Regions from separate parts of the Homo sapiens genome. Here region 1 is linked to region 2. A link means that fine-mapping ties the variant in region 2 to the expression of a gene that starts in the linked region. Tissue or cell type: whole blood. Region 2 holds a variant in brackets; the other region holds the start of a gene. All regions are shown on one strand. Distances are from middle to middle.

Region 1 (8,107 bases), 27 kb before region 2:
GATTCACTCTTGAAAACCTTAAGTACCTAATGGAACCCTCATCCTAAGCAAAAATAGCCACAAATCACGGCCTGATGTAACAGATTTATGTGAGCAGTGACCCTAGAACCAGACTAGGTATCTGAATCATGGCTTCACTCACTACTTGCTAGCTGGCTAATCTGGTGAGCAGTTTATTCTCATTTTGCCTTGGTTTAATAATTTTTTAAATGGAGATAACAATCATACCTAATTCATAGAGGTGTTTTGAGGATTAATTGAGGTGCTTAATTATACAATTTCACAAATGACCATGCAGCCTCACATTTCCTACTTGACTCACTTTCATATTTTTTTATTCACAAGGGAGAGAGAGTGATTGTTCTCCTCTGGCAGCATGTAATAAAGATAGAGCATCTTCTTGTGAAAACAATACACGTACCATGTTTCTATGTACCTATATGTGCTTCCATCAATAAGCCTATGTTGGTTGCTGCATGTATGAGCCCTGGGCCAGGAAATGTGCCAGGAGAGTGTGTCTTTCACTCAGCAGACAGATTTTCTTCCTTGGCCTAATATATCTTATTCCTAGATACCAGAGCAAATAATAATGTAATAAGCATTACCATGTATTAAGTACCTACTCTGGACCCAACCCAAGAACAAGCAGTATGAAGGTGATAAGCAGGGGCACCATGGTGTAATTCACATTTTCATCATCAGATCACTCTGGCTGCTGGGTGGAGAATGTTTATAGGAGAAAAAAGGTGAAAGCAGGGAGACAGGACACTAATGCAATATCCCAGGTTTAAGATGATAGAGATTATCTTAAGCATGTCAGAGAAAAAAAATTAAAGGTTTGGGAATGTGTTTCTGAGGCGGAGTCAACAGGATTTGCTGATAAATTGACTATTTGGAGTTGAAGAAAAAGAATAAAACAGTCTATATATAACCAAGTACCTCTTTTTTAAAGAATCAAATGAATTATTTTTTCCTTTTTCCTTTCCTCACACCTCCTACTTAGCTCTTTGGGAATGCAATTATAAACTTTACCTTCTCTCCACCAGACACTCCCTACACAGCAAGCTTATCTAACTACATGTTTACTTAGAAGTTACAGAGACCGAACCTTAAAGCAAACCAGGAACCTCCAGAACTCTCTCCTACCAGGAGGCAAATTGAGATTGCCTCAACTTACAACCTAGCTCTGCCCGTGACGGTGCCAGCCAGACCACCTGATAGATAAGACATCCGAAGCAAGTCACATAGACTCTGCACTTCATCGCCCTCTCCCCTGCATGCCATTCACGCCAAGCCCCACTTTCAAAGCTCCTGCCTTCTGCCCCAAAGGCTTTAGTGGCTTCCTCAAGGCAGCCTGTACTACTTCCCCTCAACTAGCTCTGGAATAAAGCCACTTTCTTTCTACCAGACGTCGTTCTTGTTCACTGGACTTTGCAACTGGTGAGCAGTCGGAGCTGTGTTCAGTTACATGTATGCCTTGCCTCATTGAACTCTCATGAAAACCCTATGATCGAGACACTGTTGTTATCTCCATTTTATAGGTGAGGAAGCTGAGAACCAGATAGATTCATCCAGTGTCCTAGGACACACAGTGAGTCATGCTTCGGATCTGTGCTCCTAGCTGATGCCTCCCATTACTGGTAGTCCTTTCCTGCTCCCCACAATGTACATTTATTCATTTCTTTTTCTATTTTCTTATTATCTTTCTATTTTTCTTCTTCTTCCTCTCTCTTCTCTCACTAGGGATAGAACGCAAGGATCTCACTTAGCCCAGTGGATGGCAGTCAATTAATGGAGCGAGTGGCTTAGTCCTTGTCATGCTGCCAAGTGCAAGGGCCTTTCCATGCTCAGAATCACCATGAAGACGAGAGCTATCTCTCTTGGTAGGCTACAGACTCAAAGGGTCTGCATATTTATATATGCTGCCAAAAAAACCTCAAATAACCAATAGATATAAATAGATACAGAAAGTTTTTAAAAGAACATTTAAAAATAAAATTTTTAAAAATATTTTTAAAAAACAAAATAAAGTATATAACATCACTTAAGAGCACACACACAATCTCTAGAAAAATTAAGGATTCATGAGTTGTCCACCCTCAAAAGACATCTCCATGCCCTTCCTCATGACAGACTCTCTTAGCGCTTTCCTTTCTTTCATTTTCATTTTATTTCTTATTTTATTATTTATTTTAAAGAAAAGGGGCCTCTGTCTGTTGCCCAGGCTGGAGTGCTGCCATGTGATTCTAGCTCACCACAGCCTCAAACTCCTGGGTTCAAGTGATCCTCCCATCTCAGCCTCCTGAGTAGCTGGGACTAGTGCAGGAGCCACTGCACCAGGCTCTTCAGGGTTTTTCTTCGTAATTGGGCTTATTGGGGTCAGTGGTAGGAAGGCTGTGTAGTTACAAGGCTCTGTGGAGCAGAAGTGGCCCCACATCCAGTAAGCTGCATATCCTTAAATCCCAAATCTCCATCCCAAGATTGGAGATTTTTGGCAGGTATGCCCTTACTGGTGCTCTTCCTATACCATCCCCGATTTTATTTATTTATTTATTTTTTGCTTGTCCTTATAGCACTCCATTTTGCCATGAGTACAGGTTTCTCTTGCATAGCCAAAGATATTCAGTCTCAGGCTAACAGATTCAGCCTCGTGTTTATTCTGTGTTGACTTTCTCAAAGGGTGCGTTAGATTTCTTGCAGAGCACATCTTACCACCCAGAATGCTCTGCATGCCCATCTCCAAGATCCCGATCCCAGCACTGAAGAGAGCATGGCAGCTCTGCTTTCAGTGCCTTTGCTGGAACTCTGAACAAGCAGCCCCCAGTCAATCATTTCTGCTTAATTAATAGCCCGCGCCCTGTGCATGCTGCCAAATATGGAGGGTCAGGCCATGAGATATTCTCCAAACTTTTACTCAAGGCGTCCTATGGTCACCGTGAGATCTCACCTCCCCTCTGAGCCCCCAAATCAGCTTTCCTCAGGGTAATAACTAGGCCCGAGTAGGGTGTAGTCAGCAAAGCTGCAAGCTGGGGCCCCATGTTGCATACATATATGCCTCCTATTGGCCCTTTTCTTCTCCACACTGCCCCTGTGTTTTGGCCACCCCACTCCACCCTCAACTGCCACCCCCACCCACGACCCATACCACACCCCTCACCCCCACCCACAACCCCTACCCCCACCACGCACCCTCCACCCACACCTCCCATCTCCACCCGCTACCCCCACCCCCACCATGTACCCCCACCGGCAACCCCCACCCCAACCCACAACCCCTACCCTCACCCGCAACCCCCACCCTCACTGTGCACCCCCCACCCTCCACCCACACCCCCATCCCCACCTGCACCCCACCCCACACTCACAACCCCCCACTCCCACCTGCAACACCCCCACTCCCCACCCGCACCCCCCAACTTCCCATCCCCCCACTCCTCTCCATTCCCTCTCTTGCTTGTGCGCATAAGCAAGTCCCACTCATTGCAACTGTAACCAATACCAAGCATGAGAACAGGAACTAGCTCCACCCTCTAACCCCCACTCCAGCTGCAGACGCCACGGAGTTTGTGCAGGGGCGCAGCGCTCCAGCCATGGCGCGTTCGCTCGTCCACGACACCGTGTTCTACTGCCTGAGTGTATACCAGGTAAAAATAAGCCCCACACCTCAGCTGGGGGCAGCATCAAGCGCAGAAGGCCATGTTGGCCAAGGAGCTCCAGGCCTCATGGGTAATATGAACCCTGAGGGCGGTGTGAACCACGAGAACGGCATGAACCGCGATGGCGGCATGATCCCCGAGGGCGGCGGTGGAAACCAGGAGCCTCGGCAGCAGCCGCAGCCCCCGCCGGAGGAGCCGGCCCAGGCGGCCATGGAGGGTCCGCAGCCCGAGAACATGCAGCCACGAACTCGGCGCACGAAGTTCACGCTGTTGCAGGTGGAGGAGCTGGAAAGTGTTTTCCGACACACTCAATACCCTGATGTGCCCACAAGGTAAGTGGCCTGCTCCAGGAGCCACGAGATCTCCAAGTTCGTTTCGAGGCATCTTTTTCTCTCCCTTGCCCCACCCAATCATGAGGAAAAAGCCACTGGGGGTCCTTGCCTGCCTTTGTGCTGGTGTGGAGGGGGATATTTACCTCCTGGGCATCAAGGTAAATGTTTTATTGCAATGTTTATGTGAATGAAACCTGGAAACTAGTCCGTGCCTCCCTTTTATAAAGATGTGGTAAAATACACGGAAATATGAAATTTACCGTCCAAACCACTTTTTAAGTATAGAGTTCAGTTGTGTTAAGTATGTTCACATTGTTGTGCAATAGATCTCTAGAATTCTTCTCATCTTGCCAAGCTAAGTCTCTATACCAGTTAAGCAACTCCCCTTTTCCCCCTTTCCCCAGCCCTTGGCAACCACCATTCTACTATTTTATGTCTCTATGATTTTGACTACTCTAGGTATCTCATGTAAGTAGAATCATACAGTATTTGCATTTTTGTCACTGACTTATTTCACTTAGCATAAGGTCTTCAAGGTTCATCCATATCGCAGCATATATTAGAATTTCCTTCCTTTTTAAGGCTAAATAATATTCCATTTTATAGATACAGGTGCACACCAACAGTACATGGGGGTTCCAGTTTCTCCACATCCTCACCAACACTTGTTATTTTCTGGGGTTTTTTACATAGCCATCCTAATGGGTGTGAGGTGATACTTCATTGTAGTTTCGATTTGCTTTTCCCTAATGATTAGTGATGTTGTGCATCCTTTCATGTGCTTAGTGGCCACTTGTATATCTTCTTTGGAGAAATATCTCTTTAAGTCCTTTACCCATTTTAAAATCTGAGTGGCTTTTTCTTTCTTTCTTTCTTTTTTTTTGGTTATTGGGTTGTAGGAGTTCTTTATACACTCTGGATATTAACCCCTTATCAGATGTGATTTGCAAATATTTCCTTCCATTCTATGAGTTGTCTTTTTACTCTGTTCATTGCATCTTTTGATATACAGAAGTTTTAAATTTTGATATAGTCCAAGTTATGTATTTTTTCTTTTATTACCTGTGATGATGGCCTGTTTTTGTTGTTGTTGTTGTTTTTGTTGAGTGGGGGATCTGTCACCCAAGCAATCCTCCCATCTCAGCCTCCTGAGTTGCTGGGATTATAGGAGTGAGCCACCACACCCAGCTGTGGTCTGTTTTTATAAATAAAATTTTATTGAAATTGGGGTAAGGAGAATGAGGTACTGTCATGCAACTACAGTGCTAGATCCTTCCTTTATTTAAAATTTTGATAATTTGTTCATCATAGTTTTTTTTTGTTTGTTTGGTTGGTTTTTTGTTTTTCTGGTTTTTTTGTTTTGTCTTGAGACAGAGTCTCTCTCTGTGGCCCAGGTTGGAGTGCAGCAGTGCGATTTCAGCTCTCTGCAACATTTGCTTCCTGGGTTCAAGCCATCCTCCCGTGTCAGCCCCCTGAGTAGCTGGGACTGCAGGCACAGGCCACCACACCTGGCTAATTTTTGTATTTTTTTTGTGTGTAGAGATAAGGTTTCGCCGTGTTGCCCAGGCTAGTCTCAAACTCCTGGGCTCAAGCAATTTGCCTGCCTCGGCCTCCCAAACTGCTGGGATTACAGGCCTGAGCCACAGTGCCTGGTCCTCATCACAGATTTTTGCATTAATTGTTATTTATTAAAATAGTGCATTAGGGCCAGGCACGGTGGCTCAGGCCTGTAATTCCAGCGCTTTTGGGAGGCCAAGGTGGGAAGGTTGCTTGAGTCCAGGAGTTCAAGAACAGCCTGGGCAACATGGCAAAACCCCGTCTCTAAATAAAACTTAAAAAATTAGCCATGTGGGTGTGGTGGTGTGTGCCTGTACTCCCAGCCACTTGGAAGGCTGAGGCAGGAGGATCGTTCGAGCCCAGGACATGCAGGCTGCAGTGAGCAGTGATCCTGCCACTGCACTCCAACATAGACGACAGTGAGACCCTGTCTCAAATAATAATAATAAAAATAATAATAATGCATTAAATTATTCATCTTGGCCGGGTGCGGTGGTTCATGCCCCAAATCCCAGCACTTTGGGAGGCTGAGACGGGCAGGAGTTCGAGACCAGCCTGGCCAACATGGCAAAACCCCATCTCTACTAAAAATACAAAAATCAACTGGGCATGGTGGTATGTGCCTGTAATCGCAGCTACTCGGGAGGCTGAGGCACGAGAATCGTCTGAACCCCGGAGGCGGAGGTTGCAGTGAGCTGAAATCACACCACTGCACTCCAGCCTAGGAGACAGAGTGAGACCTTGTCTCAATTTAAAAAAAAAAAGGTATTTCTCTTGATTACTGAGTTGTTAACGTCACCTTAAATTTCGTGATGAGGGTAAACCATTTCTAAAGCAACCATGGAGCTGGGAATTAGAGAAAAGTATATACTTGGGGGAGGTGTGAGGGGAGATTATAAATTGTAAAACAAGCATGAAGTAAATAGTACATACTATATATTTCATTTCATCCACAACTTTGAATACTAACCATGTGTGATCTTCTCTCCACAGAAGGGAACTTGCCGAAAACTTAGGTGTGACTGAAGACAAAGTGCGGGTCAGTACACTTGAAAAAGCAATTTGAGAGGACAGCCATTCTAAAACCTGCTTCAGGGCATTGAAGGCTTTGAAGGCTTTGTCCTGAACGTTCTAAAGTTGTTGTTTTTATTATTGTCTTTTTTATGTTGACAAATAAGTTTTGAAGTTTGGGTTCCTTGTCGGTAGAAAAGGAAGTAAGCTCCAGCTTATGGTTCTTTCCTCTTTCCCATTCCAATTAGGGAATATGATTTCCTAAAGGAAAAACAAAACAAAAACTGCTTCTCCTAATCTGTATACAAAATTAAACAAATACATACATATGAAACACATATATTATACATATATGTATTATATATAATACATATGTGTATTATATATAATACATATATGTGTATTATATATAACACATATATGTGTATTATATATTATACATATGTGTATTATATATAATATATGTGTATTATATATAATACATATATGTATATATATCATACATATATACATATATGTATGTATCCAATAAATAAAATTCAACTCCTTCTAACGCTGGTATCTTTTAGGAACAATTTCTGTGTAGAGTCATGGTGGGGTTCAGTCTTACCTTAGAAGTATTCAAGTTAATGCAGGGAGGAGCAGGGTTATAAGAGGGTTCAAGTGTACTAAATTATTTAAGGCCAGGCATAAACACTTAGCTAAATGAGTGAATTTATAAATATTGGGATGAGGGAGTAATTCACCCACAGAACACATTACATGACTAAATAATGTATACTTAGTTAAGCTGAGACTGATGGGAAGATAGCTTATATGTCCAAGCCCCTGGTCCTTCTTTGTTTGTTTTTAAGTTATTGGTAAAGCAGTATAGAGAGTGGCAGCCCTAAGTTTTAATTTTCTAAAATACTTTGATGTGTCAACCTGAAAATATTGCTAAAATAGTCACATTATTTTGAAATTGAGGAAGGTTTGTAAGGTTTGTATGCTTTGGAAAATTGTCTAAAGAATGAAGCAAACAAAATGAGTAATATTGAATTCATTTCAGTTGACCAAGAAGGGTGAAAAGGTTAGAGAGAAATATGGTCAAAATAGGCTTTGCACATACTATGCATGTACTATACAAATTCAACATTATGAAACTACTAAATGTTTAAGTGACTGTTCTCTTGAGGAATTTCTATCCATCTAAGGATTTATATTTCTTTTTGGTGGTACTTTTTTGAAGAGGTGGGTTTTCTGGAATTTGTTTGGAGAGGTGGCCCTCATTTTAGGGTAGATTCACACCCATGTTAATTTCAAATACTTTTCATTCCTTTAAGCAGTGTTAACTAATTAGTAGGTCATAGGATTCAAGTGATGACCACTTAAGACCAAAGAAAACCATACATAGTATCAAAGTGATGTTTTCCCAAAAAAGAAAAAACAAAAATCAGGATGACCTTATTATTAGCTTTTATGCAGAGTGCATGTGTGAGTGTAGTGAGGGAAATGCACTGCCGATCTGGTAGTGGGTTGTCCAAAAAAGCAAACTAACAAAGCGGGTTACTG
Region 2 (8,107 bases):
TGTTATTGTTTAAACAGTGAGTTTCAAAAGTGTTTCACTTTATAAAAGTACACTCAGAAATATGAATATCTATTGCCTTCTTATTCCTCACACTACCTCAGGAAAGCAAATACGTCATTGCAAATATACTAATGTAAGTTATGCTCTACCCTTCTAACCAATGACATAATTCTTAATTCTGTGATTTGAAATAAAAAATTGTCTCAGCACATGCTCTCAAGAAAAGCCTTGCACAGGCCGGGCGCGGTGGCTCACGCCTGTAATCCCAGTACTTTGGGAGGCCGAGGTGGGCGGATCACGAGGTCAGGAGATCGCGACCATCCTGGCTAACACGGTGAAACCCAGTCTCTACTAAAAAAGAAAAATGCAAAAAAAATTAGCTGGGCCTGGTGGCAGGCGCCTGTAGTTCCAGCTACTTGGGAGGCTGAGGCAGGAGAATGGCGTGAACCCAGGAGGCGGAGCTTGCAGTGAGCGGAGATCAAGCCACTGCACTCCAGCCTGGGCGACTGAGCGAGACTGTGTCTCAAAAAAAAAAAACAAAACAAAACAAAAAAGAAAGAAAGAAAAGCCTTGCACAGGCTTTCGGGAAGTTGATCAGGGCTTTACATGTAATTACAGAATAGCAACTAAGCCAGGGAACCTTTTGTGGCCCCTTACAGCTGCACTCTGAAAATTCAAGTGAATAAAATTAGAGTTGAAGTTATGAATAACAAGTTTTAGCCCTGGAACAATGCCTACTGTAACATTCTAGCATTTCAATTATGATCCTACCTGAGGCTGCCAACTAGGCTGGATCTTCCATGGAAATATTTTCTGCACACTTCTTACAATCTCTCCAATTTCTGTGTCTAATCTTCGTGACACATGTTGCCAATATTATCAAAGGAGACCAATTTAGCTGACAAGTGTACAGATTTTAGGTTCCATCCAAACTTTAAGGGGGCATAGTCTTTCCTAATATGCCCTATGTTTAAGGACACTTGCTCTGAAGTCATACAACTCAATTTCTCCCATCTCTTCTCTGCCCTCCCTATTACACCATCCCTTAGTTATCTTCTTCCCTCATTCCCTCCTCCCCCTTGCCCATTCTCTTCATGCTTTCTCCTCTTCATGTCTACGTCTAGCAAGCTGATGGCTCCCAGCAATGAAGTGCAGGTGAAATTCTGACATTGTATTTTTCTCAAATAAGCCACTCAGCCAGTAGATAGCTTGTCAACACCTTTAAAGTACCTAGGTGTCTGGCACTATGGGGAAGAAAAGCTGAATGAACTAATGTTTCCATCCTCACAACCTAGTTGGAAAGATAAAGCATGTTCATGTGAAAAGATAACTAGAAAGGCCAAGCAGGGGACAGCAAAATACTTTCTAACTTAAAATATGATTCAAAGTTAGATTTAGTAAGTTCTAAGCAACTATAGCCGAAGTTAAATCCTTTCAAGATAAAGGGCACCACACTGACCTCAGAAATAAGAGTGTAACCAAGTACCCCCATTTTTCTAAGTGGTAGTTTAATTATTTTTTTCTGTTCTTTTCTCCTTTCTCCTTTCCCCCTGCTTCCTATTTAGCCCTTTTTGAAATGCAAAATAACCTCTCTCCTCCCAGTCACCAGACTTTCCCTACAGCGCAAGTTCATCCGTGTGCCCCAAGATGGAGCTCTCCTCTAGAGTTGATAGTTGAAGTGCAGATCAAAGCATGTCCCCACAGAAATCCCACCTCCAGAGGGTCACCTCAGGAGGGCATGCTTTCCATTTAGCCACTTTTACAACTTATTTCTGCCCAGAAAGGCACCAACTCAACTGTCTGGTAGATAAGAAACCAGGGTAGCAGGGAGACCCCCTGCCCTTGCTCACTTCTCTGGTCAACTTAGAAAAGATTTCACTTTTGCTACAAAGGTGAAGCATCACATTTAAAACAAGACACTTTATGCCCCTTCCCCTAGCTAGCTTCGGAAATAAATTCACTTTTCTTGTACAAGGCCTTGCTCTTGTTAATTGGACTCTAAGTCCAATTAACCTGCTTTTTGGTTACAAGAGGAGGTGGTTATAGCCCAGGATTTTACCAAGCTGAGGTCCATCCTCCAACATTGAAGTCCATAGACCCTGAGTACTGTGCTGGTCAGTCCCAGGTGGGCAGATCCTTGAGAGTCATGAAATCTTAAGACCTCTCAGAACAATCCAGCCTCACTTGAACAGGTGTGTTTGCCACACAGTGGACTGCCTCATTGAATAGTGCCTTGTGCAGAACTAAAATACTGTGGCAAAGCTGTTCCTCTAATGGCTGAATATCTGATGGTGATGTTGATGTTTTTCTCTTTTCCAGTCAGGTCCAAGGTCATATCTACGGTGGACCACTCTTACAGGCTTAGCCTGAAAACTCTATGATTACCCTATAGACCCACCGCAAACACCAAGGTCTGTAAGGTAAAAGAAAAGAGTGGGCTCCCTGGACCTTGACTGCTTTTTAGCCTCTAAAAACAAAATACATTAGCATGAGAAGGAAAATGTATATGCTAAACAAAACACTCCTCCATGTAACCATGTGGTAAGTGGCACAAAAGAAGATGCACATAATGTATCAATGAAACTCTTTTTTGTGTGTGTGTGTGATGGAGTCTCACTCTGTCGCCCAGCCTGGAGTGCAGTGGCGTGATCTCGGCTCACTGTAAACTCCACCTCCCAGGTTCACGCCATTCTCCTGCCTCAGCCTCCTGAGTAGCTGGGACTACAGGCACCTGCCACCACGCCCGGCTAATTTTTTGTACCATTAGTAGAGACGGGGTTTCACCGTGTTAGCCAGGATGGTCTCAATCTCCTGACCTCGTGATCCGCCCCCTCGGCCTCCCAAAGTGCTAGGACCACAGGCGTGAGCCACCGCGCCCGGCCCAATGAAACTCTTAAACACATGGGAAATCACATTGTTTTCTTGTATAAGTAATACTGGATGTTCTCATTGTTTTCCCTACCTTTTATCTACTGCCTTTGTGAATATAATTCTTTGGGATCATAGTAGAAATCACATACTTACTTTATTATATTATCTGAGCACTCTGTAGATCAAGTATAATAATTGATCTCTCTGTGTTTTCTGAAAGTAAAGATAGTATCTGCCAACATACAAAACAACTGATAAGATTATGCAAACATAGCTTTGGGTTTATTCTACACAGAACTTAACTTTTCTTTTGCCCTTTGTCAAAAGTACAATAAAATGTGAAAGTTATAACAAAGTTCTCAACCAGCTCAGTTCAGTTCAGTAATTCTCAACAGGACAGTCAGCTATAGGCCACAAATTTCTGTGCCTGTATCCCTTAGAAAGAAAAGGAAGAACACATTCCAAAAGAATATTCCAGTGTATGTATGGAACAGGAATTAAAAGAAATTAAAGAGTGTGCAAGCAGAAACTCAG[T/C]TGTATGTAAGAAAACCCAATTCCCCCTAAGAAAGAGAAAGAGCTGAAGTCCTTTAAAATTAACTGCCTGTTTTTCTGTGGCTAGTGAGCCTTATCTCTCCCACTTTCCCAGGCATTGTGAAGACCCTGTCTCCTTAGCTGTGCAGCTGCAAGGTCACTAGACAGAAAAACTCAAGTTGCAAAACATGTTTTTCCTTGAAAAGTAAAAAATGATATAATGCATGTCTCAATTGCCTTTGTTTCTCACTTCTGTAGTATACTTTCCTCTGCACAGATCTCCCCCGACCCACGAAATGCTTAAAAGGTAACTTAACTCTGTTCAGGGCTCAGTCCTTTGGATGTTAATCCGACTGGACCAGTGCACCTAAATAATTAATAAATATCCTCCTGAGCCCCATTGGTCTCTCTGATTCCTTAAAAATCTCGTAACATTTCTGGGAACTCGCCTGGGATTGGAGACAACAGATTTACTGTCTCATTTGCCTGGGGGACTAGAGCCCCAGGGCTGGGGAGACCCAGCATCCAAGGCACGCCACAGGGGAGCTTCACCCAGACAGAGACTGGCTCTCCCCACATCCCAGCAGACTGCCCGGCAATGCAACAGAACCAGGAACAGGGCTGCAGGACGATGCCAGCACTTCAGGAACTGTAGTAAGGAGCAAGTGCCTAAGGCAGGGAAGCCTGTCCCATAAGGATGATCACCTCCCAGGGAATGACCACTAATCCAACCCAGAGCAGCTGGGGGTGGCAGGAGAGGCTTGCTAATTTGGATGAACCTCGTGTCCCCATTAACAAAGTGAAAGTGGTTTACTGGATCTGGAGACAGGAACTGGGAGTGTGTGGGTGTGTGTGAACCCACCCAGGACATGAGAGAGGCTCGTTTCGTCTGATGAGGAGTCCTGGGCAGGGGAGGTGTGTGAAAGTGTATGAAAGAGATGGTCTTGGGAGAGGCCAATGCGGGGAGTAACGTGAGGAGGCACAGATCCCTTAGGGCAGGCTGTGTACTCCAAGGTGAGCGTGGAAGAAATCAGACCTAGGATGCCGCATACGGCCAATGGGACCAGTTTCACAGCCACAGCAGGCTGTGACAGGGGAAGGCACATTCCTGGCTAAGCAGTGTCTGAAACTCCCATAAAAGGACCTGGTCTGGTGGATCTGAGAGTGAAAGTGAGAGGGAAAGTGCACTGCAAGGGAGGAAATGGGAGGAAAAGTGTCGAAGCCAACTCCTTTGGAGTGCGTGATAAAGAATTTTAAAAAAGGATTTAGAGGTGATTATGGGATGAAACTGGATGCTCAAAAGTTAAGGACATACTGTGAAATAGATTGGCCTGCTTTCAATGTGGGGTGGCCCTCTGAAGGTACAATAGACAGAAAATTAATTGGCCGTGTGTTTAACGTGGTCACCGGAGTTGGAAGACAACCAGGATACCCAGACCAGTTTCCCTATATAGACTCTTGGCTCAGTGTAGCACAAACTCACCCCAAGTGTCTACAGCCCTGTCTAAAGAGATATTATAAGGCATTAGTGGCTCAGGCAGCCCAACCAAAGGAAGAAAGAAAAACCAGATATAGGAACAGAGATGGCTCAATTTATAGCTGCTGCACTAGCAGAAAGTAACCCTGAATTTGCTAGAGGGCGTGGCCAAGGCAGAGGTCGAGGAAGGGGGCAGACAAGACCAGGAGAGGAAAGCCAATCTTGGTTGGACAGGAACCAATGTGCAAAGTGCAGGAAAATGGGCCACTGGAAAGATGAGTGACCCAAAAAGGAAAAGGATGGAAATGATGGTCAATGGTCTAACACCCAAGTGCGTTATTCGGTTGCTAGTCATGGTGCATCAAGGGCAGATCCTGATCTGATTGGCTTAGCAGGGGCCAAGAATTTTGAGGACTGAGACAGACCAGGCTCCATCTTTTTAGGCCCCGGGGAGCCTATGGTCTCTATGGAAATAGGGGGTCAATTAATGGATTTTTTTGGTCGATACTGGTACTGATTTCTCTGTGGTAACTCACCCAATTAGCCTCCCCACAAAGAACTGTGCTACTATTGTAGGGGCTACTGGGGCCAAAAAAAAGAGACCTTTTTGCAAATCCAGGAGATGTGTTATTGGGGGACAAGAAGTGCAGCATGAGTTTCCGTATATGCCAAATTGTCCAGTGCCCTTGCTGGGGAGAGACTTACTCCAGAAACTGCAGGCAGAAATTTTCTTTACGCCTAAAGGGAATATGACACTGGAGTTTGGAAAGTCCAAGGCAATGGTATGAACTCCAACTGTCCCAAGGGCTGAGGAATGGTGGCTGTGTGAACCGTGTGCCAGAAGGTCACCAGAACCGACCTACACAATATATGGGGGATGCTTTTCAAGGTACCAGGTGTATGGGCCGAGGATAATACCCTGGACTTGCTGCAAACAGACCCCCAGTGGTAGCAGAGCTTAACCCTCATGCTGCCCCGGTATGAGTCCGTCAATACCCAGTACCCAGGGAGGCAATTGATGGAATAACAAAAGCATCTGAATCGGCTTTATACACATGGGATTATAGTAAAATGCAAGTCCTCATGGAATACTCCTCTGTTACCCATGCACAAATCAAATGGGGAATACAGGCCAGTGCAGGATCTCCGGGTGGTAAACAAGGCCACTGTCGCTATCCATGCAACAGTACCCAACCCATACACAATGTTGGGACAGATTCCTGCTGATGCCACTTGGTTCACATGTCTGGACTTAAAGGATGCCTTCTTTTGTTTGAAGCTTGCTCCCCAAAGTCAGAGGGGGCAATCGCAATATACCTGGACAAGGCTGCCGTAAGGGTTTAAGAATGCTACCATTTTTGAGGAGGCCTTGGCTACAGATCTTGAGGCTTTTGCGCCACCTAGTGACAATTATGTGCTATTACAACACATTGATGATTTCCTATTTGCCGCCCCCACGAGGGAGGAATGACTCCAAGGAACAGAGAGGCTTCTTCACGTGCTGTGTGAAGCTGGTTATAAAGTGTCCAAGGACAAGGCAAAAGTCTGTTTTCAGGAGGTTGGATATCTAGGATTCATGGTATCCCAAGGCCAGCGCAGGCTTAAGTGCACGCAAGGAGGCTGTATGTGCACTGCCCACCCCAGTTACAAGGCCAGGGAATTTCTAGGCGTGGCAGGATTCTGCCGAATCTGTATTCCAAACTTCTCCCTTACAGCAAGGCCCTTGTATGAGGCTATAAAAGGAAAGGAAAGAGAGCCCCTCCTATGGCAAAAGAAACAGGAAAAGGCCTTCAAGGATATAAAGGAAGCTCTCATCCAGGCCCCGGCACTAGGGTTGCCAAATGTAAAAAAGCCCTTTTTTTGTATGTGGATGAATGTCAAGGAATGGCAGTTGGAGTCTTAACTCAGTTCTTGGGCTCTTGGCATCGGCCGGTAGCATACTTATCCAAAAGACTGGACTTGGTGGCTTTAGGTTGGCCCCACTGCCTCAGGGCATTGGCAGCTACCGCAATCCTTATAGAAGATGCCAACAAGCTAGCCCTAGGTCAGAAGTTAATAGTTCAGTGCCACACGCCGTAGTCACCTTAATGGAGCAAAGAGGATATGGTTGGCTGTCCAACTCTAGAATGCTAAAGTATCAAGGGCTTCTATGTGAAAATCCCCAGATAACACTAGAGAATGTAAATACCTTGAACCCAGCTACCCTGCTGCCTGTGGAGGAACCCGATTGGAAGGATGCTGGGTTGCCTCACTCCTGGCAGGACCTTCCCCACTGTTGCATAAATATGGTGGACAAAGTGTTCTCGAGCCAGGAAGACCTCAGAGATTCCCCCTTGGAGAGCCCAGATGTTATATACTTCACTGATGGTAGCAGTTTCATAACAGATGGGGTGAGATATGCAGGATATGCAGTAGTGACCCAACACTCAGTGGTTGAGGCTCAAGCCTTACCTTCTGGGACTTCCGCTAAGAAGGCTGAATTAATAGCATTAACCAGAGCACTGTTATTGGCCAAGGGGAAGAAAGTAAACATATGTACTGACTCAAAATATGCTTTTGCAACCCTGCGTGCCCATGGGGGAATACACAAAGAGAGAGGACTTTTGACTACTGAAGGAAAAGAAATAAAAAATAAGGAGGAAATTTTGCAATTATTGGAAGCCGTATGGGCTCCGGAGAAGGTGGCTGTCATTCATTGCAAAGGACACCAAATCAGGAAAAGCTATGAGGTGCAGGGCAACAGAAAGGCAGACCAAGAGGCTCGGCAGGCAGCAATGAGCAAGGCTTCACCTGAAGAAAGAACTCTAGCAATGCCTCTCCTTATAGAGCCCCCTTTGCTGGAGGTACCCCCTTACTCTTCGAGTGAAAAAGCTTGTTTTGTTCTGGAAACAGGGAAATATATTAAAGGTGGATGGTGGCTGTTCTCTGATGGGAGACTAGACGTCCCAGAGACAATAGCCTCAAGGTTTGTGAAGCAGATCCATCAAAGAACACACACTGGAAACTAGAGACTTTGATAGGTCAACACTTCTATGTGCCACGGCTCTCTGCCATCACCCATGCTGTTTGCGAATAATGTCTATCCTGTGTCTGGAATAAGCCAAAACAAGGACCTATTCGACCCCCAGGAATTCAGGAAATGGGAGCTGTGCCTTGTGAGAACCTGCTTGTAGACTTTACCGAGTTGCCTTGAGCAGGAGGTTACCGGTATATGCTAGTGTTTCTTTG

The links. PIP is the estimated chance that this variant, and not a neighbour inherited with it, causes the effect.
Region 1: it holds the start of RHOXF1, and the variant in region 2 is fine-mapped to the expression of RHOXF1 in whole blood (TOPMed, PIP above 0.99). The same link has a PIP of 0.9 or more in adrenal gland, blood mononuclear cells, ileum, prostate, thyroid and tibial nerve.

The regions. Positions count from the first base shown.
Region 1 is chrX:120,111,346-120,119,452 of GRCh38, reverse strand. It overlaps RHOXF1 (Rhox homeobox family member 1), which reads left to right and starts at 3,540. Exons shown (of 3, transcript NM_139282.3): 1 at 3,540-3,988; 2 at 6,539-6,584. The coding sequence starts at 3,591. The region is part of intron 1 of RHOXF1-AS1 (RHOXF1 antisense RNA 1); the gene reads right to left. It overlaps LINC01402 (long intergenic non-protein coding RNA 1402), which reads left to right. Exons shown (of 3, transcript NR_126557.1): 2 at 1,542-1,591; 3 at 1,744-1,811.
Region 2 is chrX:120,083,945-120,092,051 of GRCh38, reverse strand. All of the region lies in intron 1 of RHOXF1-AS1 (RHOXF1 antisense RNA 1), which reads right to left. Among named protein-coding and RNA genes, the nearest start is that of RHOXF2B, 10 kb to the right of the region's middle. The variant T/C (reference allele first, on the strand shown) is at 3,406.